Linked DNA regions of Homo sapiens: all the other regions are linked to region 1. The links come from fine-mapping of genetic effects on gene expression. A gene starts in region 1. Each other region holds a variant in brackets. All regions are shown on one strand. Distances are between the middles of the regions.

Region 1 (10,832 bases):
AGGATAGGGAGTTAGCAACCATGTCTAAAAACCTCCAAAAAGATGGATAAGTTTCTCTTTTTTTTTTTTTTTTGAGACGGAATTTTGCTCTAGTTACCCAGGCTGGAGTGCAATGGCGTGATCTTGGCTCACCGCAACCTCTGCCTCCCGGGTTCAAGTGATTCTCCTGCCTCAGCCTCCCGAGTAGCTGGGATTACAGGCATGCACCACCACACCCGGCTAATTCTGTATTTTTCTTTGAGACGGGATTTCTCCATGTTGGTCAAGCTGGTCTCCAACTCCGGACCTCAGGCGATCTGCCCACCTTGGCCTCCCAAAGTGCTGGGATTATAGGTGTGAGCCACCACGCGCAGCCAGATGGATAAGTTTCTAACTGTGAAAGAAACCAATACATCATCATTGAAAGAGACAAATGGTATTAAAGAATAAAAAAACTCATTAGGCTGGGCGCGGTGGCTCACGCCTATAATCCCAGCACTTTGGGAGGCCAAGGAGGCAGATCACTTGAGGTCAGGAGTTCCAGAACAGCCTGGCCAACATGGTGAAACCCTAAAATTACAAAAATTAGCTGGGTGTGGTGGCGGATGCTCACTGTAGCCCCAGCTACTCGGGAGGCTAAGGCAGGAGAATTGCTTGAACCTAGGAGGTGGAGATTGCAGTGAGCCGAGATCATGCCACTACACTCCAGCCTGGGCAGACTCTGTCTCCAAAACAAAAACAAAAACAAAAAACCTCATTAATCCCCATCTCTAAATTCCCCCTAAAGGCAACTATAGTTAAGTTTGTGAGGTATGCTTTCAGATGTTTTCTGTTTATATCAAAATATATTTTTATATAAATGAAATAACATTATATTTTTTGTAATTTATTTTTTAGCCTATTGTATAGGAGATAGAACATATTAGCCAGCCCCTTGTGCTAGTAGTTTAGGCTATTTTCAACTTGCCAGTGAAAATAATACAGCATTGAACATCTTTGTTTTAGTGTATCTTTGCATTTCTGTGAAATAGTTTTGCAGTACAAATGCTTAAAAGTGGAACTGTTGTTGCCTCAAAGGATACACAAATTGAAAATTTTGTTACATTTGTAAAAATGTGTTAAAATTTCTAAATTGCCCCTCAAAAGTTACTAATTTATACACGTATGGGTAGTACATTAGAGTTGGAAAATAAAGACTGTTGGTAATTTTTGTGTATTTAGGATAGGGGTCCTCTTACAGTAGTTTTCAACATGAGCCGGTCCATTTTTATTTTCTTTCTTTCCTTTTTTTTTTTTTCTTGAGACAGACTCGCTCTGTCGCCCAGGCTGGAGTGCAATGGCGGGATCTCGGCTCACTGCAACCTCCGTCTCCCGGGCTCAAGCAATTCTCCTGCCTCAGCCTCCTGAGTAGCTGGAATTACGGGTGTATGCCACCACACCCGGTTAATTTTTGTATTTTCAGTAGAGATGGAGTTTCACCATGTTGGCCAGGCTGGTCTCGAACTCCTGACTTCATGTGATTTGCCTGCCTCGGCCTCCCAAAGTGCTGGGATCACAGACGTGAGCCACCGCGCCCAGCCTATTTTCTTTCTTGTATCCCATTTGGAAGTCATCTAGCTGGATAATGGTTTCTGGATAATTGCTCTGGGAACTGAGACTCATAACTTTATGCTCATTAGCACTACGAGCTAAAAAAATGAGCTAACTAACTACTGTTATTTGTCTGTGTAAAGGTATGCATTTTGAAATGAAGACACATTACATACATGCATTTTTCTTAAAATTGATTTCCTGCATCAATTTTCTGATGACCATATATATATATATATATTTTGAGACGGAGTCTGTCTCCCAGGCTGGAGTACAGTGGCATGATCTCGGCTCACTGCAAGCTCCGCCTCCTGGGTGCATGCCATTCTCCTGCCTCAGCCTCCCAAGTAGCTGGGACTACAGGCGCCCGCCACCACGCCTGGCTAATTTTTTGTGTTTTTAGTAGAGACGGGGTTTCACCGTGTTAGCCAGGATGCTGTCGATCTCCTAACCTCGTGATCTGCCTGCCTCGGCCTCCCAAAGTGCTGGGATTACAGGCATGAGCCACTGCGCCCGGCCCGATGACCATATTTTTTTGTGCCAAATTTTAATCCATTCTGGAGGTTTCAAAGCAAGATAGTGAAGTTTATCAGTCCATATGAACTTGAGCCTGTACCAACACATGGTTGCCAGTTCATACCTAATAGTGTAATATGGCCCTTTTCTCTGAAGAAAATGCCTTTTCCAAATCTCCCTTACTAGAATAAATGTTATCATAGTAATACCACTTCATACCTGCATAGAGTTTTAGAGTTTACAAAGGTCGTTCACAAATATTATTCCGTTTAGTTTTTACAGCAACCCAGTGTGGTGACTGGGCAGTACTATTATCTCCACTTAATAGATGCAACAAGGTTGAACAAGCATGAAGTAGTAGAACTGGGACTAGTAGGGCAGTAAACTTCCCACAAGATATGTTGTCTCTTCCATATATATATGAGGATAGCATATTCCTTTCATAGAAATTTTATTCCATGATTGTAATAGTTGCTTTCTTAAATTCTCTTTAGAACAAAGTAAAATATAAGTTAAAAAAGGAAAGAAATCCCTACAAAAAAAAAGAGAATTTTTTTCCTTTTGGGTAATTTTCACATTACCTTTCCAAAATAAGTCATTCTTTTATCTTTTAGGTAAACTGTACCAAAACATCTATTCTGTAACATTAAAAAAAAAAAATGTGAGGATGGACATGGTGGCTCACACCTATTATCCTAGCATTCCGGGAGGCCAAGCTGAGAGGATTGCTTGAGGCCAGGAGTTTGGGACCAGCCTGGGCAACATACTGAGACTCCATTTCTACAAAAAACAAAAAAATTAGCTGTGCACAATGGCACACATTTGTAGTCCTGGCTATTTGGGAGGCTGAGAGGCAGGAGGATCTTTTGAGCCCAGCAGTTGGAGGCTGGAGGCTGTAGTGAGCTATGATTGCATCATTGCAATCCAGCCTGGGTGAGAGTGAGACCCTGTCTCAAAAAAAAAAAAAAAAAAAAAAGTGAACATCTAAGACGAGGACAATATAAAACCTCAATTCTGCAAGCAAATCACATTAAATGCTAGTCATACAATATATCAGTAAGTTTCATCATATTTTTTTCCTACAACTAACCATAATATCACAGGACTAATAATCTGTGATATACCACAGTTAAAACGTAATTCTTCTTGATTTCTTACTTATAAAGATCATAATTGCTGGTCAGCAATTGATCCATAGATAAGGTGATTTTGGAAAGAAATGATAAGTCTTGCCATTTTGAAAAGAAAAGTTTTTTTTTTTTTTTGAGATGGAGTCTCGCTCTCTTGAGCAGGCTGGAGTGCAGTGGCACTATCTCAGCTCACTGCAACCTCCGCCTCCTGGGTTCAAGCGATTCTACTGCCTCAGCCTCCCAAGTAGTTGAGATTACAGGCTCATGTCACCACGCCTGGTTAATTTATTGTACTTTTTAGTAGAGACAGGGTTTTACCATGTTGGCCAGGCTGGTCTCAAACTCCTGACCTCAGGTGATCTGCCTGCCTTGGCCTCCCAAGTGCTGGGATTACAGGTGTGAGCCACCGTGCCTAGCCAAAAATGATTATTAAAGAAAAAGATTGTTTTCCTTTTTTGATCCATAATGTCATTAGTCTCATTGATTTCAGTTTTCTGTCTTAACATTATGACTGTAATTTCTTTTTTTTTTTTTGAGACGGGGTCTCGCTCTTGCCCAGGCTGGAGTGCAGTGGCGGGATCTCGGCTCACTGCAAGCTCCGCCTTCCAGGTTCACGCCATTCTCCTGCCTCAGCCTCCTGAGTAGCTGGGACTGCAGGCACCCGCTACCACGCCCGGCTACTTTTTTTGTATTTTTAGTAGAGACAGGGTTTCACCATGTTAGTCAGGATGGTCTGGATCTCCTGATCTCGTGATCCGCCCGCCTCGGCATCACAAAGTGCTGGGATTACAGGCGTGAGCCACCACGCCCGGCCTATGACTGTAATTTCTTGTGTATCATTAGGTTTCAAGAAAAAGGATCTTGAAACCTTTTCTTGGGATCACGACTGTAATCCCAGCACTTTTGGAGGCCGAGATGGGCAGATCATCTGAGGTTGGGAGTTCGAGATCAGCCTAACCAACATGGAGAAACCCCGTCTCTACAAAAATACAAAATTGCTGGGTGTGGTGGCGCATGCCTGTAATCCCAGCGACTCAGGAGGCTGAGGCAGAAGAATCGCTTGAACCCGGGAGGCGGAGGCTGTGGTGAGCTGAGATTGTGCCATTGCACTCCAGCCTGGGCAACAAGAGTGAAACTCCGTCTAAAAAAAAAAAAAAAAAAAAGAAAGAAAAAGGATCTGGGCATTCTCAGTACCTTTTCTGATCTTTATCTTCAGGAAAGCCATCTCTATATAGTTGAGCAAATAAATACTGGGCTGAGTATCTGATGAACTGCACTCTGCATAGGTTGCATACTGAGAATGAACTTGGGCAGTTTATCTTTTCTGGGCTTTGGTTTCCTCATCTCTAAAATGAGAGGGCGTGTTAGTTCTAGACCATCATCCCAAGGGTCCATTTTAGCTTTAGCGTGCATCACTGTAAAACCTGTTAACAAATATTTGTTGAGATAAGGAATTCTGGTGTATAGCCAACATTGTGGGAATATTTGTGGATACCTAAATAGTGGTTTATCCTCTGGGGAAAGCAGTTCCTACAGCTACTAAATACTAACAAGGCCTATGGCTAAAATCAGGTAGCACCTTGTGATGTAATTCAAACCACTAGGACATGTGGCATGCAAGACTACATCAGGCTACTTGAGGTATTTATTAGGTAACAATTTTTTTTTTTTTTTGAGACGGAGTCTCACTCTGTTGCCCAGGCTGGAGTGTAGTGGCGCAATCTCGGCTCACTGCAACTTTCGCCTCCAGGGTTCAAGCGATTCTCCTGCCTCAGCCTCCCGAGTAGCTGGGATTACAGGCGCCTGCCACCATGCCTGGCTAATTTTTGTATTTTTAGTAGAGACGGGGTTTCACTATGTTGGCTACACTGGTCTCGAACTCCTGAGCTCAGGCAATCTACCCGCCTCGGCCTCCCAAAGTGCTGGGATTATAGGCGTGAGCCACCGCGCCCGGCCTAGGTAACGATTTTTGCGCGCTAAACGGTTCTTAGTAACCTGCAGAGTGAAAGCAGAGTACCTAAATATCATACTGTATACGTTAAAAACAGGGGAGAAAGGAAAAAAGGTGTTAAAGTTTACAGCAAAATGAGAAACAAATGAGGAAAACAAGTGAAAGCTTCTCCCGCAACTGAAACTCAACCTCTACATTTTACCTAGGTAAAATGGTAAAATTGCCCACAGGGCTCAGGTGTTTGGATGCACTGTCCAGGCCAAGAGGAAAGATTTTCAGCCAGTCTCCAAAACATCTCAGGGACGGGTATGGAAAACAGGCGTAAAGTGTCTGTATTGATCAAATCAACCCCAGAGAAACTTTCCTAGGGCCAGAGAGCATCTCAACCGCGAAAGTCCGTTTGCGGCCTCCTTCTCCACTTCAGGCCTGCAAAGCGGCTGACGGCATTCGCAGTGGCTAGGCAACGGCCCGCGCAGACTTCTCGGCGTTAGCCCCGCCTCTTGAGGCGCTTCCGCCGCCGGGCTCCTGGACACGCCTCCTTTAATTGGCTAACGTCACGCTGGGAGTGGGCGGGGAAAATATGTCAGACTGTGCGGTCACTTCCGGCCCGGGAGCGCGCGGGTTGATTCGTCCTTCCTCAGCCGCGGGTGATCGTAGCTCGGAAATGGCGGGTAAGTTACCGGGAAAAGTTTACCAAGGGGAGGAGGCGGCCAGATCGGGGATAGAACGCCGAGACGGTGGTGACAATGCCCGCCTAGAACTTTCGGGCTGTAGCCTGGGTTCCAGAAGGCCTGCTTGGGACCGGAAGCGCGGAACTCTCAGCCCAGCAGCTCCTTGTTGGCGGCGGTCCGCGCCCCCGCCCCCAACTGCTTGGGGTTCTGCGCCTTCTGCCAGCAATCCGGCCCCTACCGAGGGCCGAAGACGCCAGGGAAAAGCGTCATGATTTGGGCTCGTAAAATGCCACATGCCTTGGGGCCTGTTTCTCTTCCCATTCCTTTTGTCCACTGCTGCTTGCTTCAGCTCTTGTACATCTGGTCCTGTTCCCGCCAGCTGATTTTAATGCTCAGATCCTCCTCCTCTTCCAGGTCTCCGTCTACCTTCCACTACAGTCAACTTCTGAGCTAGCGCATTGCTGCCTTGCCCTGCTCTGGCGCTCCCACTTGGATCTCGACTGACTTCGTAGTCGTCTCGTTAATCTGTCACACTTTAGTATTCCGAGGATCGTATTTAGATGCCCTTTGAGAAAGACTTTGTTCCTGAACTGCTCCCTTCTCTTTTAGGGTTGGACTACTATAATACAATTCTCTTGTGTACATTCTAGAGACCCTTCAAGTTACAACATTTAATAATGTATAATTGCTATTACTTTGTACGTGTATTAAGGCTGTTTTGGTGTGATTATTTTTTTCGATTACTTATCTTTTGAAGTTATGGACAGTTTCTTTTTCCTGAGACAGGGTCTCTCTGTCGCCCAGGCTGGAGTGCAGCGATCATAGTTCCGGGCAGCTTCCAACTCCTCGTAGGCTCAAGCGATCCTCTTGCCTCAGCCTCCCGAGTAGCTAGGACTACAGGCATGCGCCACAACATTCGGCTAAAAAAAAACAATTTTTTTTAACCTTTTAGAGACAGAGTCTGGCTGTATTGCCTCAGGCCGGTCTGGAACTCTTGGCCTCAAGCCATCCTCTCGCCTCAGCTTCCCAAAGTGTTGGAATGACAGGATTGAGCCACTTCGCTGGCCTTTGTTGCTTTTATCATCTCTTTACAGGGCATTCCTCATAGTCTCTCTACATTAACCATTCCATTTTTATGAATATGTGGGATAGACAAGCTGTTGTGTGAGCTCTACAGATGTTTAAAGAAGGACTTTTCTACCAGATGGAGATTGTAGGATCTTGAAGTACCACAGAAGAGGGAGGACGTACTCTAAGAATTACATCTAAATTCGAATTTTGGGCCCATCATTTAGTAGTTGGATGCCCTTCAACTAAACCTCTTTCTAAGCCTGAACTTTTGAATGTAAAATGGGGTTGATGTAATACCTACTTATAGAATTGTGCAGATTGAGCTAATATATGATTTCACAGGTTAAATTTTGTTGCTTACATTCCTCGAAGTAAATTCTGTAATCTCGGTTCTGTAGATTAGGGTCAGAGGGGTTAAGTAATGTGCTCTAGTTCCCTGAGCTTACTAGCTCAGTAAGTGTGTGAAATAGTCAGAATCCAGGAATTCTCACTCCAGACTATTAATCTGTACTGCTTCAAGTCTTTCCCATTTTCTGTGTGTGTGTTTTAACCCCTTTTTGAAGTTTATAGCACATCATTGTACCCCTTTTTATTTTTTGCTTATGGCTTTTTTCTGTCTGAATTTTTACTGATTTTTTTTTTTTTTGGAGACTGAGTCTCGCTCTGTCACCAGGCTGGAGTGCAGTGGCGCGATCTCGGCAACCTTTGCCTTCTGGATTCAAGCAATTCTGCCTCAGCCTCCGGAGTAGCTAGGACTACAGTCACGCGCCACCACGTCCAGCTAATTTTTGTATTTTTAGTGGAGATGGGGTTTCACCATGTTGGCCAGGATGATATCCGTCTCGACCTCGCGATCCCCCTGCCTCGGCCTCCCAAAGTGCTGAAATTACAGGCGTGAGCCACCGCGCCCAGCCCATTTTTACTAATCATATGCCCATTTTGTCAGGAGATTTGTTATCTTGAAAGTTTCTCTTGATAGTGATATCTTCCAATGTTATTTATTATGTATATTATTGAGTAGCCACTATGTAGTAAAACTATTGTGCCAGTAGCTCACAGTTTATGACTTTAGGCATACATGATTTTTAAATATTTAATACAGTGGAAAGATGTTTTCTTTGTGCCCCTGTTCCTCTTCCTTCTTTCTTTACCCATGGTAACTATGGTTACCAGATATTTGTGTATTCTTCTTGAGACATTCCATGCATTATCATTTCCTTATCTGAAGCACTCTGGTAGACTTTTTCCAATACTTAAAATGAAATTCTGTCATAATTATCAGAGGACATTCTCATTTTGCTTTTTACATCTTATAATGAAAAAGACGACTTAGGTATAAATCCTAGCAGGTAATTTGTATTAGTACATGTTCAGAAATGTTAGTAATCTATCATGTTAATTTTCAGGTTTATTCATTTATATTAAGTATTCCTAGTTTATAAGCCTGTATCTCAAAAGTGATTTCTTTTTCTGTTTTGTAATGAGGCATTCTTTTTTTTTTTTTTTTTTTTTGAGATGGAGTCTTGCTCTGTCGCCCAGGCTAGAGGGCAGTGGCATGATCTCGGCTCACTGCACCCTCTGCCTCCTGGGTTCAAGAGATTCTCCTGCCTCAGCCTCCCAAGTAGCTGGGATTACAGGCGCCCGTCACCGTGCCCGGCTAATTTTTGTATTTTTAGTAGAGACGGGTTTCACCATCTTGGCGAGGCTGACCTCGAACTCCTGACCTTGTGATCCACCCACCTCAGCCTCCCAGAGTGCTGGGATTACAGGCGTGAGCCACCGTGCCCAGCTGGCATTCTTAATACATTTATTTAAGAGTATGTGGAGAATGACTTGTGCTTTTATGATCTATCAGCATGTTTTAAATCATACCCCTATTCCACTTATAATAACCCTATTGCAGGTTTGACAATTTAAGTCACTTCCAAACTAAACCTTTTAAAAACCTTTTCTCTTAGGATTTGGTGCTATGGAGAAATTTTTGGTAGAATATAAGAGTGCAGTGGAGAAGAAACTGGCAGAGTACAAATGTAACACCAACACAGCAATTGAACTAAAATTAGGTATGTATGCCATTTCTAAGTGATGTTATGTACATACTGTGTGTGTATATATAATCTTTCATTTTAAATTTGAAGTAAAATTTTATGTAAGAGCAGTTATTTATGCAAATGTATGGTTTTCTGCATTTATTGAACATATTCAGATTTTATTCAGTTTTGATTTATGTCATGGAAGGTGTAGATGTTTGAAAGGTGACAGAATTTTATATAAAAAGGAAAGACGGTGGGGCAAAAAGTAATAAGTATATATAGTTTTAGCCTCTTAAAAATATTTTTTACTTTTTTGCCTGTAAGAATAATAAACAATAGCAAATATTGGTGAGGATGTGGAAAAAAACACTTGTATATTGCTGGTGGGAATGTAAAGTGATATAACTATTTTGGAAAACAGTTTGGCAATTTTCTTTTCTGTCTTTTTTATTTTCTTTCCTTCCTTCTCTTCTTTCATTTCCTCCCCTCACCCCTTTTTTTTCTTTCTTTCTTTTTTAAAGAGACAAGGAAGGTCTCACTCTATCACCCAGGCTGTAGTGCCACGGCATGGTCATAGCTCACTGCTGCCTCCAACCCCTGGGCTCAGGCAGTCCTTCTGCCTCAGCCTGCCAGGTAGCTAGGAGACCACAGGTGTGCACCACCCAAGCCTGGCTAATTTTTATAAAAAATTTTTTTTTTGAGACGGAGTTTCACTCTTGTTGCCCAGGCTGGAGTGCAATGGCGTGATCCTGGCTCACTGCAACCTCCACCTCCTGGGTTCTAGTGATTCTCCTGCCTCAGCCTCCCGTGTAGCTGGGATTACAGGCATGCGCCACCACGCCCGGCTAATTTTTTGTATTTTTAGTAGAGACGGTTTCTCCATGTTGGTCAGGCTGGTCTTGAACTCCCAACCTCTGGTGATCTGCCCACCTTGGCCTCCCAAAGTGCTGGGATTACAGGCATGAGCCACCACGCCTGGCTTATAAAAATTTTTTCATAGAGATGGACCCTACGTGTCTATGTGTCCAGGCTCATCTTGAACTCTTGTCTTCAAGCAGTCCCCTGGCTTGGCCTCCCAAAGTGTTGGGATTATAACTGTGAGCCACAGCGCCCCTCCTGGTTTGACAGTTTCTTAAGAAGTTAAACATAAATGAATTATATGACCCAGGAGTTATACTGCCAGGTATCTGTCTACTCAAGAGAAATGAAAATGTATGTTCACGCAAAAACTTGTACATGAATGTTCATAGCTGCGTTATTCACAGTAGCCAAAAAAATGTAAGAAACCCAGATATATATCAGCTGGTAAATGAATAAAGTATAGTATAGCTATACCACGGAATACTATTTGACAATAAGAAGGAATGAAATTCTGATACCTATTGCAGTAAACCTTAAAAAGATTGTGCTAAGTGAAAGAAACTAAACAAAAACACCATATATTGTGTAATTCCATTTGTATGAAATGTTCAGAAAAGACACATCCATAGAGACAGAAAGTAGTGGTTGCACAGTGGAGCGCAGAGTAACTACAAATGGGCCTGACATTTCTTTTGGGAATTATGGAAATGTTTGAAAGTTAGATTGTGGCACAGCTCTGAATTTGCTAAAATTTTACACTTAGAACAAGTGAAAAATAATATATGCTCATGATTCCTGGTTGCATTACTTTCCATGCCTGAGTTTCCTCATTGTTAATAGTACTTCACAGTGGTTACAAAGATTAAATATGGAGTTAAATATCAGTAAAGTGTTTAAACTCCTTGACATGCAGAAAATACTTGGTAAGGGCTGAGTGGAGTGACTGGATGTGGTTGCTGAGATCTGCGTATTTTTTTTACATGTCCCCTCATTTTTCAATTACTTCATTCTTTGATAGTTTGATTACCTT
Region 2 (10,832 bases), 82 kb before region 1:
GGAAAGTATCACACTGAAACAGTGCACTGCATGCCCTCAGGGAAGTCTATGTAATTTAGGTTTTAAGGAAGAAAGTAACATCTGGAAGTTGGACTTCATGGTTCATCTACCTATAAGGTCAAAAACAACAAATATAATTATCACAGATCAAAACAATAGTTATTTAAACAGGATCTTCAAGACCCTCAACTGTGAAACTCTTGCTAGTCCTGGATAAACAAAATCACTGTACAATCTATGGAACACTTTTTAACCTTGTTTTTTTCCTTCACACACATACACAAAAACCAACTGATGACTTTAAATTTTAAGACAATTTTATTACATCAACTTTTCCTAATTTTTAAGGCCACTGTTATAATTAAAATACTTAACAGTCTGTGCTAAACTCTAAATTCGGATCATGAAGGGTACAATTATCAAAAACTCCAAAAAATGTAGAAAATCTGGAGAGAATTTATTCACTATTGAGTTATGTCTTCAATGGAATAGTGCAAAAGAGGCTCCCTCATGCCTGAGATGGCGGGCAACGTGGCCTTCATTACCTCTGCAGGATGAAGACGTAATTTGTTCTCTGCTCACCACTTGGACATAAACTCAAAAGAGAATATTTTGCATAGTTTGCAAAAGCCTCATTTCCAAGCCAGAAGTCAGAGGAACCCATATGATTGAAAACATTCTCCTTTAAAAATGCAAAGAAATGCTTATGTAAATATCAATGTAACAATTTTAATCATAAAGGTCTATTACAAATAGTGTAGGTAATGATGAGCAAATATATCCCACCCCACCACCCCTCACACACATGCCTTAACCTAAATACAGTTTATATTTGTGTTAGCCTGAATTTGGATACCAGCAACCCAAAAAGCTGGACTCAAATTTTCATATACTCCTCTGAGGATTAGAATTGACTTTTGGTAAACTATAAAAAATTGAGCCTCAAAAAATTGAGGCTATTATAGTAGGTCTATCTAACCTAGTTGGAAAAGATTAAATGAGTCCCTTCCCACTAAGGTACTGAGCCCCTCCCTCTAGGGTTCTCTTCCCTTCTCTCTCCTTCCCTCCCTTTCTCTCTTTCTCTCTCCCTTTATCCCTTTCTTTCCTTCCTTCTTTCATTTTTTTGGTTGGGGTATGAGGTGAGGGCAGGGGAGTGGGGGATGGTGTCAAGGAGGTGAAACGTGTAGGAGAAAGTGACATGGTCCATGTTCAGATTCACTGAAGAAAAAGAACAGAAGTTGATCTTTCTACCCCAGTCTAAATCAGGGATAATGATCTTCAGCTGAAACAACAAAGGCACTCATTGGCTTCCCTCCATTCAAAACAAGCAGTAATCAAAAACTTATACATAAGTACAACGCATAGACAAGAAAACGGGTAAGTGAGGAAAGTTTCACCACTCTATGTGAGGAAGTGGATGACATGAGTTTGCTATTGGTCCAGATGATTACTTTATAGAGATTAGCAGTTTGACAGAACAAAAAACTATGTCTGGTGCATACAGACTGAATGTACAGGTGAAGGGGCAGAGAGAGGAGTGAGCCACAGAGGCTGATGGCCACATATTTCCTCCATACCTTCTGCCATGGGCATGGTTATTAAAACACTGCAGAAGCCAGTGATGATCCCTCCGGCAGACAGCACCCTGAAGGCAACAAAGGAAGGAGCCATCTTTATAGCAAGACCTTGGGAGCCCGGTGGTGTGGAAAGAGGCCAAGATGAAGGCAGTAGTGTCTGGGAGAGTTACTGCCCACTGGAAAAAGTAATTGCTCACCCTTGTCTATAAACTCTTGTTTCCCTTGAACTGGACTCTGTAAATGGAAATAAACAATTTGGAAATAGATGACAGCAAGATGGTGGCTCTGAATAAAACTATGATCCGGGAAAAGATAACTCACCATCACCTCTACCTCCATTACACACACACATACATACATTCACGTACACACACACACATGCACACACACACACACACACACACAAACCTGTTTACTTTCTACCAACCAAGCATGAAATTTGAATAGTTGAGAGTCATATGAGTCCCTGGAGGCAATCCAGGACTCAATGGATCAAAAGGTTTGAGGAAATAGAAAGTTAAAGAACTTGCTTTTTACTTACTGAAACTAAGTTCTCCTCCACAAAAGGAGTAAGCATGTGAGATCTAATGGTAACCATGATGTCACTGAAATCCAGACCAGAAATCATGCCACTTTTGCTTTTGTCTTTGAGTGCAAAGGCTTGTCTTGCATGTTCCAATTGCAGCTCCTGTGAGGAAATTAGAAATAGGGCATTAAGCTGGTTAAACACATTCCAAGTACATGGTTTGGAAAGGAAGGAAGGACAGATATCCTTCCCACACATGTACTTACTACAAAACAAACAATGCACAGATCTGAATTTGCAACAAAACTTTTAATTTCTTTCAAAAAGCATGAGCTTTCTTAAAAATGTACTACATATTACTCCTCAGGAAAAAGAATGAATGAGAGCACATCAATAAAGGAAAGGTAGGAAAAAATAACCCTTAGATTTTACTTGACAAGTTTTCATTACTGAAAACAGAGAATAATGTTTTTGGTGCTTCATTTCAGCCTTTAAAATATACAGTAATTTATCTCTCCTGCTTGAAGGCTTACCTGTCATCAAAGAGTACTTCATGAATTAAGAGTTTAGATTCATTTTCAGTTTTTCAATTTTAAATGTTGCAATCAAAGTCTCTCTCTCTGTCATTCTATAAATGAATTAGAGACCATTTTTTCAAACAAATTTTTCAAATAAACTCAGTGAGAAACTCTACCAACTGGTAAGTGCAATATTCAGTCATTCTAAAATGAAAGTCAGGAATAACAAACTGCAAAAGTAGTGTTCAGCTATCACTGGCTCTGGGCACCGTTACTCATAAACTGTAAGACAGTCCAGAATATCTCTGAACTTTTGAACTATTGGGCAACCAAACTTTGTAATAAGTGATATCCACAAAAACAACAAAATGTTCCAGCAATCCCCTGTGTACTATACAAAAGTCAAAATCAGAGCATTTCTGTTGTGGGGATCCATGACTAAATGCAAAAAACCTGTTAGCAAACATAACAATGGTGCTGCTATTGGATGCCACCGTCACACTCTTTGCAACTCTGTAAATAATAGTCATATCTAAGTATATACATATTATTTAAAGATTACATAATTTTCATTCACATTTACTTATCAAAGACTACAAATTAATGTTGCTTTAACTTTTCATGACATTAAAAGTAGTTTTTATAGAAGTCTCATCATTTTTATTTAATTATATTTTCCTATGGACTTGTGATAACTCACTCCATTTTCCCATGACCTCAGCTCCAACCACTTCACCCTTCAAATGAAGTGGGAATTTTCAATCCATCTACATCATTACATGGATTTGAAATTGGTCCCCATGGCAAAGATATTCCTAAATAGCATCAAAAGTAGACACAGGTTCACTCCCTGTCTTATATCTTTTTCTTTCCTTCTACCTCTTTTCTATCTCTTTCTTATGTCTTTGTCTTCCCTATATGTCTTAATCACCCAGAAATATCAAATGGTAGCCATGGGTACAATTTAGCCTTATTAATAACACTCAGTACTAAAGAAGATGTGGACCTTTACCTTCAAGATGAAGCAGAATGCTCACTGAAGGAGTAGTGTTAGTAGAATAGATTGTCTGTTTTCTATAAGGTCAACAGTTAAAGGACTCTTATTTGTCTTTTAAAGATACGTATTTGAAGGATCACAGATGAAAAAATCATAGAGTATGTGCATCTGGCTTCCAAATGATCCTGCAGGAGGCAGGGTGGAGGGTATAGATAAAAAAGATTGGCCAAGAAGTGGTAATTATTGAAGCTGGTTATAGGTCCAGGAGGTTCATTACACTATTCTCTCTACTTTTGAGTATATTTGAAGTCTTCCAAAATAAAAAAGATTTTAAAAAATAAAATTAATGACTTAAAAATGAGAAGTTAAACACAGAAAAAAAGAAGTTACATATATGCGGCTCTCAGTTTATACAGTATAATTAAAACATCAGGGTACAATAGATATTGTAAAATAGACTCTGTAAATGCAAGGAAAACAGTGAGAGAAAGAGAGAAAGTAATCTTTGGAAGAATCTTAAACACTAATCAGGCAGACATTTCCTTTTTTAAAAAAGTCAGCTCTCAAATGCATATATTTTCAACTTTTCAAGTTTGAGAATTTTATAAGGTGAGTTAGATAAGCACTAACAGGGAAAAGAGTTAGAACAAACACTGGCACCTCCAAATACCCACACCTAAAGCCCATAGTTTCAAATCTGTGCTCATCCTAATGAAGAAAAACAATACTGTGGGCTTATAAAAGGTAAAATAAATAAATCTTGGGTTAAAAAGGTAGGTAGGTAGGTAGGTGGATAGGAGAACTAAAGGAAAGATAAAGAAAGGCAGTTATGCTGAAGGGAAAGATCCTATGCCCTTGAAAATGCATTTCATCTAATTATGAGATGAAAATTAGCAGAGCTTCAGAAACAGTGTGACTGGATGAGAGTGAACTTGTACATTTAACTCCACCGTCTTCCAAAATGCCACTCTCCACTAAAATAACAATAAAAGAACAAAACAAAACAAAACAGAAACGCAAGGACAAAGACAACAGAAAAGGAGAAGATGGCAACTATATTTTTAAGATCAGAAAGCAGAAAAGCAAATGACAACTGACTTAATGGACTCAAAAAAACTAAGCAGAAAAAGCCAAAAAGGAAGCCAATGTACATGACAGGACCCCCAAAAGATTCAATTATTAGCTGCATTGGTACCTCTGGAAGTGATGGTGAAGGTGGAGCTGAAAACAAGGGGCTTAGCTGGATATCTGTTTAAGAAGCAGTTAGTTACCCCTGCCTTACTCCAAATAAGGCCTCCACCCTTTCCCAACCTTGGCAGAAGACTAGAGGTCTACTGTCTGAGGAGTTTAACAGAGGATCTCTGAACCAGCATAGACCACACACAGTTGAGAGGGAGAATACTACAGTGAAAAAAGGTAGTAAACTGAAAGTCCTTCTGCAAAATTGAACACTGAGACCTCCAACTACTTATTACTCAGCAACCAAAACATCAAAAGCCAGATCTAATATTCCAGATTGGAGACTAGACAATTTTTCCCTGATTCCCTAATCCGAAATAAAAGACCTAGCCTAGGCAACATGGCAAAACCCCATCTCTACAAAAAATACAAAAAATTAGGCAGGCATGGTGGCACACGCCTGTAGTACCAGCTATTCAGGAGGCCGAGGTGAAAGGATCCCTGGAACCTGGGGAAGTCAAGGCTACAGTGAGCCATGATCCTGTCACTGCACTCCAGCCTGGGGGACAAGGTAAGACCCTGACTCAAAAAAAAAAGAGAAAAAGAAAAACAGAGACCCAAACAAAGAGTAAAAATAAATAAATAAATGTGGAGAAAGCAGACACTATGCAAGAAGAAAACTTTAAAAAAACAACAAAGAAACCTGTCTTCAATATCTTTGAAGAAGTGAAAGAAAAGAGTGCATCCATGAAACAAGAACAGTATGCTATTTTTTAAAAGGAATATTCAGAAAACCAAAAAGAGTTCCTGAAAATTAGAAATACAGCAGAAATAGAAAATAGAAGGCTCAGAAGGAAAATAGGAGAGAAAAGAAGACTAAAAGGTCATAAATGTAACATTTAATAGTCCTAGAAACTAAGAAAATAGAATAAGAAAAGTAATAAAATTTTCAAGAATTGAAGGACGTAAGTTTCCAGATTAGAAAAGCCCAATGAATGAAGAGCCCAGACCAATGAATAAAAATAAACTCACACCAAGGAATACCATCGTGAAATTTCATAAACACCAAAGAAAAGAAAAAATATTAAAACACTCCCGAGTCAGAGTGGAAAAAGTTTCAAGATTAAATTAAGAATGAGAATGGCACTGTGGCAACACTGGAAACTAGAAAACAAAAGAGCAATGCTTTCAAAATTATAAGGAAAATAAACTCCTACTAGAATTCAATAACCAGCCAAACTATCTTAGCATAATGGTGGAACAAGAGGGATTTGTTTGTTTGTTTGTTAGTTTGTTTTGAGATGGAGTCTCGCTCTGTCGCCCAGGCTGGAGTGCAGTGGCCTGTCCTTGGCTTACTGCAACTTCTGCCTCCCAGGCTCAAGAGATTCTCCTGCCTCAGCCTCCCAAGTAGCTGGGATTACAGGTGCCTGCCACCACACCTGGCTAATTTTTGCACTTTTAGTAGAGACAGGGTTTCACCATGTTGGCCAGGCTGATCTTGAACTCCTGACCTCAAGTGATCAGCCCGCCTTGGCCCCCCAAAGTGCTGGGATTACAGGCGTGAGCCAAAACACCCAGACTGTTTGTTTTTTGAGACAGGGCTCACTCGGTCACCCACGCTGGAGTGCAGTGGTGGGATCATGGTTTACTGCAGCTTCTACCTCCCTGGGCTCAAGTGATTCTCCCACCTCACCTCCTGAGTAGCTGGGACTATAGT[C/T]GTGTGCCACCACACCTGGCTAGTTTTTGTATTTTTTGTAAAGATGGCATTTTGCCATGTTGCCCAGGCTGGTCTCGAACTCCTGGACTCAAGTGATCTCCCCACCTTGGCCTCCCAAAGTGCTAGGATTACAGGTGTGAGCCACTGCCCTCAGCCGGAACAAGAGGTTTTTACATATGAAAAGTCTCAAAAAAATTTTATTCCACTTTCCTCAAGAAGCCATTGCAGGAAGTATTCTACCAAAAATAGGTAAACCGCAATAAAAGAAGAGATAAAATGCAGCAAACAGGAGGTTCAACGTAACAGAACAGCAAATGGATTCTCCAAGGTAAAAGTGAAGGGTGATCACAGAATGACTCCTATGCAGTGAGCTTACACAGTCTGGCTTCTGGCCCTGAAGCAGGTGAGGAAACAACAGGAAAATGGTGCAGCTGCTGTGGAAAACAGTCAGGTGGTTTCTCAAAAAGTTAAACAGAATTACCATATGACCCAGAAATTACACTCCTATGTATATAGCCAAAAGAACTGAAAACAGGTATTCAAACAAATATTTGTATACATATGTTCATAGCAGCACTATTCACAATAACCATAAGGTGGGAACAACTCAAAGGTCCATCAGCTGATGAATGGATAGACAAAATATAACATATTTATACTATATTATACAATGGAATAGTATTCAGCCACAAAAAAGGAATAAAGCACTGATACATGCTATGACATGGATAATTCTTAAAAACATTATGCTAAGTGGAAAAAAAAAAAAACAGATGCAAAAGTTCATATTGTTTGGCCAGGCGTGGTGGCTCACACCTATAATGCCAGCACTTTGGGATGCTGAGGTGGGTGGATCACCTGAGGTCAGGAGTTCGAGACTAGCCTGGCCAACATGGTGAAACCCTGTCTCTACTAAAAATACAAAAAATTAGCCAGGCATAGTGGCGCACACCTGTAATCCCAGCTACTCAGGAGGCTGAGGCAGGAGAATCGCTTGAATCCAGGAGGTGGAGGTTGCAGTGAGCTGAGATCACGCCATTGCACACCAGCCTGGATAACAAGAGCGAAATTCTGTCTCAAAAAAAAGAAAAGTTCATATTGTACAATTCCATTTATATTAAATATCCATAATAGGTAAATCCATAGAGACAGAAAGTAGGCTGGAAGTTGCCAGAGCTCAGGGGAAAGCAGAAATAGAAAGTGACTGCTTAATGGAACACGGTTTCTTTTTGGGATGATAAAAATGTTTTGGAACTAGATATAAGACACTGTGAACGTACTAAATGCCACTCAATTGTGCACTTTTATTTATTTTTAATTTTTTAGATGGAGTCTCGCTCTGTCACCCAGGCTGGAGTGCAGCGATGCAATCTCAGCTCACTGCAACCTCCACCTCCTGGGTTCAAGTGATTCTCCTGCCTCAGCCTCTCCAGTAGCTGGGATTATGGCACTCACCACCTCGCCTGGCTAATTTTTGTATTTTTAGTGGAGACAAGGTTTCGCCATGTTGGCCAGGCTGGTCTTAAAGTCCTGATCTCAAGTGATCTGCCCACCTCAGCCTCCCAAAGTGCTGGGATTACAGGCGTGAGCTACCACACCTGGCCTAAATTGTGCACTTTTAAATGATTAATTTTATGTAAATTTTACCTCAAATTTTTTTAAAAAAGAAAGCTCCTGGAGAGCTCCAAGAAGATGAAATTAATAGAATACCTAATGTGTTTTAAACGCATTAAAAAGAGATCTTAATAATTGGGCCAAGGTTTGAGAATGACTTAGTATTAGTACACAGAAAACTAAACAAATGAAAACTAGAAACTCTAAGAACAATAACTTTAGGCCAGGTGCAGTGGTTCACTCCTGTAATCCCAGCACTTTGGGTGGTCAAGGCAGGCAGATCACTTGAGGCCAGGAGTTCAGACCAGCCTGGCCAACATGGCAAAACCCCACCTCTACTAAGAATACAAAAATTAGCCAGGTGTGGTGGCACACTCCTGTAATCCCAGCTAGTTGAGTGGCTGAGACATGAGAATTGCTTGAACCAAGAGGTGGAGGTTACAGTGAGCCAGGATCACACCACTGCACTCCAGCCTGAGCAACAGAGCCAGACTCTGTCTCAAAAAAATATATAATAACTTCAGCCACCAATAGTATTTACAAAATTATAATAACTCATAGGATTACTGATCTAAGCAGAATCATGACATAATTATATTGGGGGAAAGGGGACAGAAGTCCAAGTCTGTGATAAAGAGGGAGAGGAGAGAGGTGAAAGAACTAGCTTTTTTTTTTTTTTTTTTGAGATGGAGTCTCACTCTGTCGCCAAGGCTGGAGTGCAGTGGTGTGATCCCAGCTCACTGCAAGCTCCGCCTCCCAGGTTCACACCATTCTCCTGCCTCAGCCTCCCAAGTAGCTAGGACTACAGGCGCCCGCCACCACACCCGGCTAATTTTAGTAGAGATGGGGTTTCACCATGTTAGCCAGGATGGTCTGGATCTCCTGACCTCGTGATCTGCCCGCCTCGGCCTCCCAAAGTGCTGGGATTACAGGCGTGAGCCACTGCGCCCAGTCGTGAAAGAACTAGCTTCTAATCTTCTATAGTTAGGATACAATTAAAAAGTATTTAAAAGTAGAAAAAAAGTAGAAGTGCTTTACTATTTAAATAAATGGAAGTAAACACTGAAAGAAACAGCTATTAAGAGTTTAAAGAAGTTGTCTCTGGCGAGGGGGAAATTTAAAAAATAGGAGTGAAATACCATGGAGAACTTCTATTTTTGTAATAAACTTAATAAATACAAAGCGAAGGACACAGAAGAATAGTATATATTGATACCTGTTATGAAAACTAAGCTCACCTGGAGAAACTGCGTGAATTCTGTGTAGTTAAGATGCTTCTTCCGGTTATGCCCAAAATGCAGTCGGATAAATTCACAATCCCAGTTAAAAGGGATATGATGATGAATAATAGTCTGTCCAAAAATTTCTTTGACATTTTCTTAAAAGGGAAAACAAAAATAAATCAATTATATCTGGAATAAGTAGTTTAAACCACTGCAATGTTCCTACAGAAAAAAATTAAGAGAAGTTTTAAAAGTCAATATCATCTGCTTCTATTAAAATAACTGCAATTTTTTTGTGTGCCCAGAAACCATGCGCAGGAACACAACTGATACAAAAAATATAATTTTACACTTAAGAATATGTACCATTGCATATAAGGCCATGAGATTCTTAATTTCTCTTTATTTAATTTTAATTAGAAAGTGATTTCTATCTTACATCATAAATGGCTGCTATTTTACATCCCGTATAAAATCAATAGTGTTTTCCCAGTTTCTCAAGGAGTCGAATTAAACCCTTTATCAGAAGCATGAATACCTAAATTACAGTATAATGCAATATTTGTCATACTAAGTATGGTTTGATTGAGGCTTGATTATTACATTCACACTAGCCTGAATATGTCTATTGAAGATAGGTATAAGAAAAACTATCAAAAGCATATCATTAGCTCAGCAGCAAGCACCTTATTAAAAGCTTCTGATATTGTTAAAAATATGGTCTTGACACAAAGCTTCAAAATCCCCATAAAATCCATGATTATTAGTCTGAACTATTAAAATATTTTAAGATAAGTTAAATTAGTGTTTCACTTTTAAATAAAGAGCTAAATACAGTACACTAATTTTTAGATAGGAACTAGTCACACTGTGTAACATACAACCAAAACCCTCTGGCAGCTTGTCTTCATGCACTAACAACGTTATTTACATTCTTACAGAGTTCTATACTTACTATAAAAGTCAATTCACAAATGACTGGTACTTTAACAAGCATAGACTGGATAAACTAATTTAGAAGCTCATGCCAAAAAAAAAAAATCATGAACAAAGTTAAGAAAGCAGGAAGCCTGTTTAACTGATGTCTTAAGAACAAAATTATTTTCAAATTTCAGCCAATTTTATTAGTGAAAGAGTTTTGCCATCGATAGCTATCAGTTATACTAGAGAATTAGTAAATACACATTTAAAGTTTTATAATCTCCAACTATGCTGTTTTCTCTAATTTCTGCAAATTCTTTAAATAAGATACTGATCTCATATTGTAAATGGTTTAATGGATTCCCTTTAGTTTTATATACATACACTTTTTCTTAATAAAAGCATTACTACTGGGATAGGGGAATGTAAGAATTCTGAACTGGACGTTCTACCAGTCTAGAGTCAATATAATAGCTCTGAATAGATTGCAGCAATCAGCAAAGTTGGAAGAAGGCATTGGATGTCACTGGGGAGATGGGATTCTCATCTTTTCTTTGAAA
Region 3 (10,832 bases), 42 kb after region 1:
TTTATGCCATGTGCTCCCAGTTTACTGCTATCATTGTAAGGAGCTTCACACTAGCAAACCCCTTATGGTTAAAAATACCATATTGGTAAGCTTGATGGAATCTGATTACTTCATACTGTATGTCATAACTTTCTTTTGCAGAAGTAGCAGTTCCTAAAACATTAACAATGCCACCAACTTTTTCAGGACTTTAAACTGACATTAACTTCTGACTTTACCTCTTTTGCCAACCCTATGCCCCATCTATAAAACTAATTGTGCGTAGCATGAAAAAGATCTGAAATAGTTTCATATAATATGAATTGTGCATAGCATGAAAAAGATCTGAAGTAGTTTCATATTCATTATTCAACTTTAGTATTAGAAATATTTTGAGTTCTATTTGGTTTTTTTGTGTGTTTTTCCCCACTTCCCAGCCATGTTTGAGATGACTGAGCTTGCCAGATAAATAATATGTAACTACATTTAATATTTGTTTTATTTTATATAGTTTGTTTCCCAGGATAACTTTTGAAATTGTGCAGATACAAAAGTGATTCTGAGTAATACTGTAGTGGTTTGATGTTTGAAAAGATGTAATCTTAGATAAACTAGCATTTAACACATTTATTAAAATAGAGTTTTTTCATAATCAAATATGTAGATTGCTAAATTCTCCAGACCCAAGCCCAGCTAGATATTCTTATTAAAAATGCAGGTGATGTTTTTCCTTGTGTGTAAACCCACTGTTGGAGGGTTTTTGTTTTTTACAGTTGCAGCTGATAGCACTGAATTGATTTCTTCCAAAGGAACTATTGATTTAGTTATAGATAAATCTTTTAAATATTTCATGCAGTGAAAATAGCTGTGTATTTGCATTGACATCTAATTGTTCCATTCTTGAAAATTAGGTTTTTCCATTTAGAAATACTGTGTTAGGAATAAGGAATCAATCTTTTATAATGTCTCTTTGTAGAGTTACTTATTTGCTTTGTGGTCAAAGATCATTTATATTGCGTATTCAAACAAAGACTTTTTTCCCCTTATTAAAAACGATTGGGTAGGGGATATGTGGGTCATGGGCTTGCTTCTTCTATCTCAGTTTGCAGTGAGTGTTCATTCCATAGTGCCTTCTGTGTTGTTGATGCCAGCGATACAGTGGCAGACAAAGTCATGGAGCTTACATTCTAGCCAAGAGGAACAGTCAGTAAACAAAATAGTAAATACACAAATTAAATTCAGGCAGTATTATGAAGATACATTTTGCTCATTTCTGAATGATAAAGGAGGAACCAGCCATGTTATAATCTGAGGGTAAAGCTTACTAAGATACAAAGGCTCTAAAAATACAGCATTTTTGGCATTTTTGTAGTCCAGAAAGATTACCAGGGTTAAATCATTGTGGTGATGGAGAGAGGGGTAGGAGATGGTTGAAGGGGATGCAAAGCTAGATCATCATATAGGATCTTGTGTTCTGTGATAGGTGTTTGCAAGAAATAAGAGTAGTTGGCATTCTTTAGAGGCATTCTTAAGTAGGTGGAGGTCATAAACAATGTGATTTATATTTTTAAAATATGATTCTGGCTGCTGTGCAGAGAACACACTGTATAGGGCAAAAGTGAAAGAAGAGACCGGAACATTGCAGTGTTAGAGGTGACACTGGACTTAGTTGTCAGAGTAAGGAACATTTTGGAGGTCTGCTGTTGAATTAGATGTGACAGATGAAGAAAAAAAACGAGAACCCCATTGCCCAAGTTCAATTATGGTACTGTTAACTGGGAAAACTATAGAAGAAATAGGTTTAAGTGGAAACAATAAAAAAATTTTATTTTGGATGTTAGGTTTGAGTCTAATATATTAGGGCTTTGCAGATCATACTGCATAGATGGTCAGCAGCCATAACATCTGCTTAGAAGTTATTTCTTATTAGGATTATGTCATTACATTAATTTTTAATCATCCATTCTTTTACTTTTCCAAGCTGAATGCTCTAGTTGCACCTAAAATTCTTCAGTCACAATTAAGATGCCTATAAAATCTCTACTAGCCACCATCTTTAAAGGAAACATAATTCTGAATTTTACAATACAATAAACTTGATTATTCAGACACTGATGATTTTTTCATCTGGTTGTCCTTGACCTTTGCTTTTATTAACACCTCCTGCTCTGTGCTTGTAATGCCAGCTACTCTGTAGGCTGACTCAGGAGGATCATTTGAGGCCAGGAATTTGAGACCAGCCTTGGTAACATAATAAGACCCTGCCTATTAAAAAAAAAAAATGCTGAACGTGGTGGCTCAAACCTGTAATCCCAGCGCTTTGGGAGGCCGAGGTGGACAGGTCACTTGAGGTCAGGAGTTTGAGACTAGCCTGGCCAACATGGTGAAACCTCATCTCTACCAAAAGTGCAAAAATTAGCCAGGTGTTGTGGTGCGTGCTTGTGGTCCTAGCTACTCAGGAGGGTGAGGCAGGAGAATCACTTGAACTCGGGAAGTGGAGGTTGCAGGAAGCCGAGTTCGCGCCACTGTACTCCAGCTTGGGTGACAGAGCAAGACTCTGTCTCAAAAAACGAAAACAAAAGCTAGGCATGATGGCATGCTCCTGTAGTCCCAGCTACTTGGAAGGCTGAGACAGAAGGATCTCTTGAGCCCAGGAGGTCAAGGCTGCAGTAAGCTATGGTTACACTACTACATTCCAGCCTAGGTGACAGAGCAAGACTCTTGTCTTAAAAACAAAAACCTCCTGCCTTTTCTTGGGGGTAATTTCATTGCCTTTTAGTGAAGTAGTGGGTAACTAAGATTGTTGTCTTGCTAATTGCTAGCATTTCTGGGAAAAGTTTGGTACAGGAAGTTGAAATAGATGGATAAAGTTTGTATTAACTGTGAATTTCAGTTATTTTATCCTAGTGTCCCACTAATTGGATTGAATTTGAGAGGATATGAGAGCAGATTTTAAAAATTTTATGGAGTGTTTAGCCTCTTTCTAGGAAAATCCTACATACTTCCAGAAATTTCGAAAAAATCTTTGGTAGACTAGTAAAATTTCAAATTGTGATGGTGTTCTTGATAAGTAATACTTTTTATGAAATATCATAAAGAGCTTTAAAAGTATATATTGACAAGTTTATCTTGTTTAGTTCAAGTAGCAAAATACTAATGCAGTGTAAATAAACATAATATGACCTTTGTTTTTCCATTAGTGAAAAAGTTCACACTTTTAATTTCTCAACAATACATTCTGTAGTTAAAGCTTAAATATTATCAGAGAACATGAGATTGAGAACATTAAGTAGATACAGAATTTCTTTTGCTTGTTTTTTTTTTTTTTAGCATATTTTAGGTAGTCTTAGAATTATAGTTAAGTCTATGTACCACTTTAGCCAAGTAAAGAACAACATGTTACCACCTACTTAACGTGCCTTTAATTTCAATCTCAAAAATAACTAGACAAATTTAGACAAATGGTGCTGCTTAAGATAAGATGTTAGAGAGGTTATTGGGTTTTCAAATGTGTATAAATACAAATATAAACATTAAAAAAATAGATTACTAATTATCAGGCATATCGCTTTATTCAATAATGAGGAAATGCAAAAATTGCTCCATATGAACATGTTCATGTGTAATAAAGTACAGAACACTGGAACTTGAAATGACCATAGTTAAATAGTATACAATCTAAAAATATTTCATAATGACCCACCTACCAGAATATCTAACTAGAATACTTTTGCACTTTCCTTTTTAAAAATAAATTACCAAGCGTTAGGAAACCATTTGTAAGAGATGTCTTTGTTAATTAAATATATCAGGTTGTATTCTGGTTTCTTTTTTTGAGACGGAGTCTCACCCTGTCACCCAGGCTGGAGTGCAGTGGCGCAGTCTTGGCTCACTGCAACCTCCGCCTCCCAAGTTCAAGTGATTCTCCTGCCTCAGCCTCCCAAGTAGCTGGGATTACAGGTGCACACCACCACGCCCAGCTACTTTTGTATTTTTATTAGAGACAGGGTTTCACCATGTTGGCCAGGCTGGTCTCAAACTCCTGACTTCAGGTGATGTGCGTATTTTGGCCTCCCAAAGTGCTGGGATTATAGGTGTGAGCCACCATGCCCAGCCTGGTGTCTTTTTAAAAATTTTTTTGAAATTCTAGTTCCCTGGTGTGTCTAGTCAGCTGAATTTCTTACCCTTTCTATATTTCTGTATAATTTTAGTTGAAGTTTAGAATAATGCTCTGGAATACAGGGAATTTTTCAGTGATCTTCAGAAATAGATTCTAAACTTTTAGCCACAAACATTGGAATTAAAAAGTTTCTGTTCATTTTTAACTCTATTCAATTAACAATGATTAAATGAGGTCTTGCTCTTGTGCTGATTTTATTATCTGATCAGTAATCCAATCTGAAAGACGAATATTTTAAATTAAACTAAATTATATATTTGAGAAAAGAGTACAGATCTCTAAGACATGGTAGTCAGGATTTTTTTTTTTCTTAAAGCAGAATCCATTTAATAGAGAAATGCAGACATTTTCCCTTTAGTGAAGCGAAGTTGTAAATTCTAGGTTGAAGAACTATTTGGTTTTAAGTTGTATATTTTATGTAAGTATATCAGATACATATTTATATACATAACTATTTATAAATATATATTTATATAATTATATAAAGATTCCTTGCTTTAAAATTGCCCTTTGCCCCGTAAAAATTCTTAATGTGTAAACTTACACAAAGCAAACTATTTTATTTGAAGATATTTATTACAGGAAATAGACATCCTTTGAAGGCTGAAAGCCCTTTTTCAACTTTGTTGGGCTCAAACCTTCTGGTTGCTCTGCCCGCCACCAAAAGTGCTACTTGAAACTTAGAGTTTCTGAGAAGTCTTTGAAGTAGATTTGATACAAGATATGTAAAGTGATTTGCAATGCCTTCTTGAGAAGACAGGACATAAGGAAAGTTTTTAAAAGTTAAAATTATACATGCTATGAAAGTCTTAAAGTGATTTTTAAACTGATAGATTATAAATCCCTTTTTAAAAGTAGTTTTTCTTGGCTTTTTAAAAACCTTAACTAACATACTATACTGTTTTACTCATCACTACTTTGGATTTTAATTGCTACACAACACATCTATTACAGCTATCCCTCATTATGACAGTTTCCTTGATAGCTGTTGAAATTGTACTGATACTATAAAATATGCTTACGATGGCCTCTTCA[T/C]GTTAGCAATTTCAAGGAAAAATATTTATCAAATAGTACTTTAAAAATAAGCAAAAACTGTCCTATGAAATGCAGTTTATTTGATCTAGAGTGTGAATGAGTTGCAAGGACTGATGTACATATTAGAAATAAACTGTTGGGCAAAATGCTGAAGAGCTATATTTTCAATAATAGGTCTTTTTTATACCTATAAACAAATTATATATAAATGTTGGTGGTACCAGAGCATTGAAAATAAAACTTGTTTGTGATAAACGTCATCACTGGTTCTCTATCCTGAAATGTAACTGAATCATAATAAAGTGCTATTCATCTGCAGGTGCATTGCTTCTACTTAGTTAAAAGATGGTTGAAAGGATAGGAATTAGTAGCATGTTGTATTAGCCTTTTGTAGTGTATTTTGTCCTAAGCATCTTAATTTCCCTGTTTTGAATGCTAAGTAGCAAGGGTCTTGGTTTAGAACTAATACCCATCATGCATGTAAACGGTATGAAAGAGCTGCTTAGTAAGTTAACACAAAGTGTTCTTGTGTCAGTCCTTGTGGAAATAGATACAATACAAACATTACAGCTGAACTCACGGCAAACTCCATTAAGTAAAAACCTGGCCTCATTGTTCAGGAAAAAGTTTGAATAGAATACAAGCTCATTTTGTTGAATGTAATGTCAGGCTTTTAGGGACTGTATTGAGGGATAAGGTTTTGTTAAGTTGAGACCAATTCATTAAGTTTTATTGCCTGGTGAGAAGCAGCAATACTTTATTGTAAGACTTCATCAAATATTCATGGTTAAAGAGAAGTAGTAAATGTATTCAATCAAGTGGTCTTTTGGGATTTTGAAAAGGATTATGAAGTCTGCTCAGCTGATAACATTGATAGAGGTTGTTTAACAAGGGTAATTTTAATCTCCGAGTTTAGTTTTGTTGTCCAGTCTTGTCTCTTTTTTACTGTCACAAATCCAGGTCTGTAAGAATTGTGTCACATTCTAAGGATAAAAGAATGATATATCCATTCATATAATTTATGTTATTTCCTAAATATGTATATTTTTAAGTTATCATCTTAGTTTGAGTTTGGCATATGAGGGAATTGTGACCCATCTAGTTGTGAGATTGCTATTCATTTGGTCAGACTCTAGTCTCATCTCACCACTGCTGGTGATCTTTTCATGTCTTGGATAATATGATTTCTTTGACACATATAAAATAATAAGCAACCTTTTGCCTTGGCCAGTTCAGACTGTCATGAAGGGGTATAGTCAGCTGTTTCTGCATAATGGAAATGTCCATAGCATTGCCCTTATTATTGTACTTGGTATCAGGTCACCTGCCTTCTCTTATTTACTTTTATATTATGCTCATCTCAGTTTTGTGTGATGCAGTTTGTGCACAGGAAGCTCATCCTTTTCCAATTCGCTGTGTGTTTACTTCTTTAGTTTTCAACCAAAGTTTTGTAATTTGTGTTGGTTTTGTCAGTTTTAAAGAAATAAACCATATTCAACTTAAAGTCGAATTTGTTATTAATTTTTTATATCCTTTATTCTTTAGGCAGATGATGTTGAGGGCAAAATTAGACAAATCATTCCACCTGGATTTTGCACAAACACGAATGATTTCCTTTCTTTACTGGAAAAGGAAGTTGATTTCAAGCCATTCGGAACCTTACTTCATACCTACTCAGTTCTCAGTCCAACAGGAGGAGAAAACTTTACCTTTCAGATATATAAGGTAAAGATAAATCTAAATATTTATTGAGTAAAGTTCTATTTGCCTGAAACCTGTATGTAGTTTTGTTGTCAGTGATTTATTCTAACTGCAGTAAACAAGTTTTAATCAGCATTATAAACCAAGATCTATTTTGTGTGTATGTCTGTATCTATGTTCACATCTTAATCTGAGACTTCTAAACATTTTCCCACAGGATAATTTTGTGTTCTGCGGACTTTCACTTACCTTTGTGATGAGTTTCACCTGACTTTTCCTGGCTTTTTCCCTAGGCTGACATGACATGTAGAGGCTTTCGAGAATATCATGAAAGGCTTCAGACCTTTTTGATGTGGTTTATTGAAACTGCTAGCTTTATTGACGTGGATGATGAAAGATGGCACTACTTTCTAGTGTAAGTACAGTTCTAAAGCAACAGTAGACCTTATTACCTCCACAAAGCCAGCATTTTAATTGTGGCAGCCCAATTATTGGGACAGTATAATGATATTTTTCCCAGGAAAGAAAAACTATTGTTTATGAGGCTTGAGTTTTCCTTCATTATGCTTTGGGAGACCTTGAGAATAGAGCTGAATTAAATGCTGTTGTCCGTTAGGGCCCTGAATGTAGGCTTAAACAGTAAAATGAGCTTTGCCTGTGTTTTCTTTTACTTGCCACCTATTCATCTTTATAATAGGCAAGTGCACTGAAGTGATGTAAAGAGGTCTGATTTATCCAAGTTGCTGCACACCAATTAAGTGAATTGTACATTCAGAACATAGCAGGTGTACCCATTGGGCCCTCACAGAGTAGCTTGCTGACACTGAAAATTCAGTCAGAGAATGGAAAAGAAAATGGACACTGCATGGGAGCGCGACTGTAATTGACCTGCTTGGCTTTCTGTTTTATCTGCAGATTTGAGAAGTATAATAAGGATGGAGCTACGCTCTTTGCGACCGTAGGCTACATGACAGTCTATAATTACTATGTGTACCCAGACAAAACCCGGCCACGTGTAAGGTAATTGGCAGTATAACACGTGCCTTGTCTTTTATTTCAGAAGAAGGAACTGCTGAAGTTTCCAATACTTGTTATAATAGTGTTGATTTGTTTAAAAAAAAAATCACTATTATTCATGGGCTATGTACTGATTTATTTCATTGTTCCCTTTGAAACAGTGTAGAAGATTAAACTAATTTTGAGTATCTTGATAATTTTTGGGTATCTCAAAGGTGGATTGAAAAAAAGATCACACAAACTTTAAAGTGTTTGTAATACTATAGTGATCTGCAGGTTTTAAACTGGTCATGTTATGATATTTTAATTTTAAAATAATTTCTTTACTGTAGTCAGATGCTGATTTTGACTCCATTTCAAGGTCAAGGCCATGGTGCTCAACTTCTTGAAACAGTTCATAGATACTACACTGAATTTCCTACAGTTCTTGATATTACAGGTATGTAAAATTTGATTTGTTACTGAAAGAGCCTTTCTAAAAATGTCTTCTTACTGATTGATTTTATTTTTGTCAGAAATAACTATTTTAAACAGCAACATTTTCCTAGGGTGTTTAAGCCATCTAAAGATGGCTTAAGTTTATGTTTTAGAGCATAAGCCTTTGTGGGGATTGGATTACATCCCTAACTGTGAAGTGCATAATGGAACAAATTGAAGATAATGAGCTGAATATATATGGGGAAGTCTTGGTCAGGCGTAAATACGTTGAAAGTATGGTATAACTTATTTGTTCACTTTATTTGGCAAACAGTTGCATTATTTAGAGGCAGCCTGCACTTTAATTTACATGTAGGGGCAGAATATTATAAACTTTACTGAGAAAAAAAGTCAAGGTAAATACTTCTTGAATAGAATACACATTTCCTAAAGTGTGTGTTTTGTATTCCTAAAATGCATGCCTTCACAACAGTAGTAGATAAGGTGAAATGTAGGCCTATTTGTTTTGGAAATGTCTTTCAGTATGGATTAGCCATAGAAGTAGTAGTATGAATAGAATGCTTAGGAGAAGGAAAGACGACTTACTCGACTTACTCGACTTGACTCTTCAAAAGGAGAAGGCATTATTAGATGGAGTTTCAGATAATATGTTAAAGTGTGATCCACCAAAAAACAAAGTGGCCCAAGGAATATTTATGTTATTTTCTAACTTTCAAATTTGTTGTTCATAAAATTGCTGATGAAACTGAAAGTTACCTTTTTCTTTTATTGAAAAATACTTTACCAGATAGTTACATGCAAATTGGTATTAAAATTTATTAATCTTACAAGTTTGAATTTGGATACATCTTTGTTACAAACTATACTATTTAACATGCACTAAAACATTAACATGTTAAAAAATGCTATTTGGGAATTTTGTTTAAAGACACCACCTCCCACCCACCCACCCCCACCAAAAAAAAAATGGTTGTAAGACTGGCAACCACATAAATAGGCTAGTAAGCAGATTGTTTCATCCTTCTTTATATAGACTAGTAATCCAAGGTAAATAAAATTGAAGTTGCTTCAGAACAGTGAATTGATCTGTAGAATAATAAACTGGAGGGAAAGCACGTTGTCTTTAAAAGGGAGTTTCACATTTATAGAGGTGAATTATCTTTTCATCTGACTTTCCTGCTACTGTTAAATGGGTTGGAAACTCAGGAGATAAAGTAGTAGTTACTAAACTTCGTTTATAACAAAAGTTATAAATTGTTTAAGCGACAACTTCACTAGCTTAGTGACTTATAAAATTGTAGAAACATAATACAGACTATGTCACTTCTTTTAGTTGAGCAGAAAATTGTTTAGCTTCTATTAACTTATAGAGCTTAGACTTGCTGCTACATGAAGGGACATTTTTGGTGATTTTAATGTGGAGTTCACATAAGTAGTCTTTGTCTACTCTAGTGGGTAATGTGCCAGCAGGGGTTGTTTCTCTGAAGCCTCTTAACCACTTTCTTCTGTCTACTCCAACCAATAAAGTCCTTGATACTTAGCACCAATTAGCAGATAAAGAATTTTATTTCTTAAATCTCAGTGAAGAGTCATCAATAATGGTAGCCTTTATTCATTGGTGTTATTCATTAGAAACTGAAGTCTCTAAAAAGAAAAGACTAAACATGCTAAAGGACTTCTGAATTTGACAACTGGGTATTGGCCTTTATTTTCAGCATTAACATTTCTCAGCATTTAAAAATACTAAAAATGCCTTATCAGCTGTTCTCATTAAGATATTTATTTCTCCTAGATTTCCATACCCAGTCCTTAAAAAACAAAACTGCAGATTTTTCTACTCTTCTGTCATTTAGTTGCCTGTTTCTCCATTATTGTGTGTGCTTTTTTAGCTTTGTGGTTCTTTTGCAGGCTCTGGATCTCCATTTGCAATCCAGAATATTCTTTATATTGAGATGGCCTTTTGCTTACTTGACAGATAGCCAGATCTAATAATAATTGAAACTTCCTGTAGATGGCCTAAGTTATATCTTACTTCCAATGGATGGGTGTTTGTGGTATAATTGCCACCCATTTTCATTTTTTTGCACTCAATTTTAAGGTAAAATACTGGCAGACAATTCCTTGTATACCATCTGCCTTTTGAAGATACTATTCTCTTAAGATGTACAGCATTTGAATACATCTCAGTTGTATAACTTTATAAATAGAATCAATGATCTTGTTTCCTCTGGACTTCTGAAAGGAGTTGCATTTGGCAATAGAAATCGATTCTGGGCTGGAATACATATCAGTATTATTATCTATCAGTAGTACATTAAGAGCTAATTATATTTGTCCTTTAAATGTACTTTATTGTTCTGGGATGTGCCATATAGCTTTTTAGAATATTATGTGAATTGTTTATAACTTAGGTGATTGTGCTGTTATCTCATTTCCCTTCTTTAGAATATGATTTTTTATCACTAATATGTATGTTAATATG

Evidence for each region. PIP is the estimated chance that this variant, and not a neighbour inherited with it, causes the effect. A credible set is the group of variants that fine-mapping cannot tell apart.
Region 2: its variant is the best candidate, but not a certain one, in a credible set for the expression of HAT1 in monocytes (TOPMed, PIP 0.55).
Region 3: its variant is the best candidate, but not a certain one, in a credible set for the expression of HAT1 in neutrophils (BLUEPRINT, PIP 0.62).

What each region holds. Positions count from the first base shown.
Region 1 is chr2:171,916,671-171,927,502 of GRCh38, forward strand. It overlaps HAT1 (histone acetyltransferase 1), which reads left to right and starts at 5,791. Exons shown (of 11, transcript NM_003642.4): 1 at 5,791-5,837; 2 at 8,867-8,971. The coding sequence starts at 5,831. It overlaps LOC105373740 (a long non-coding RNA gene), which reads right to left and starts at 5,719. Exons shown (of 3, transcript XR_923579.2): 1 at 5,369-5,719; 2 at 4,410-4,561; 3 at 279-373. It overlaps LOC105373739 (a long non-coding RNA gene), which reads right to left and starts at 131. Exons shown (of 3, transcript XR_923578.1): 1 at 98-131. RefSeq lists enhancers at 5,227-5,875, 6,016-6,065.
Region 2 is chr2:171,835,003-171,845,834 of GRCh38, forward strand. SLC25A12 (solute carrier family 25 member 12) reads right to left here. Exons shown (of 18, transcript NM_003705.5): 5 at 9,367-9,506; 6 at 2,119-2,265. Among named protein-coding and RNA genes, the nearest start is that of SLC25A12, 54 kb to the right of the region's middle. The variant C/T (reference allele first, on the strand shown) is at 6,515.
Region 3 is chr2:171,958,599-171,969,430 of GRCh38, forward strand. It overlaps HAT1 (histone acetyltransferase 1), which reads left to right. Exons shown (of 11, transcript NM_003642.4): 5 at 6,740-6,919; 6 at 7,189-7,310; 7 at 7,811-7,915; 8 at 8,245-8,351. Among named protein-coding and RNA genes, the nearest start is that of METAP1D, 36 kb to the right of the region's middle. RefSeq lists an enhancer at 5,245-6,194. The variant T/C (reference allele first, on the strand shown) is at 5,195.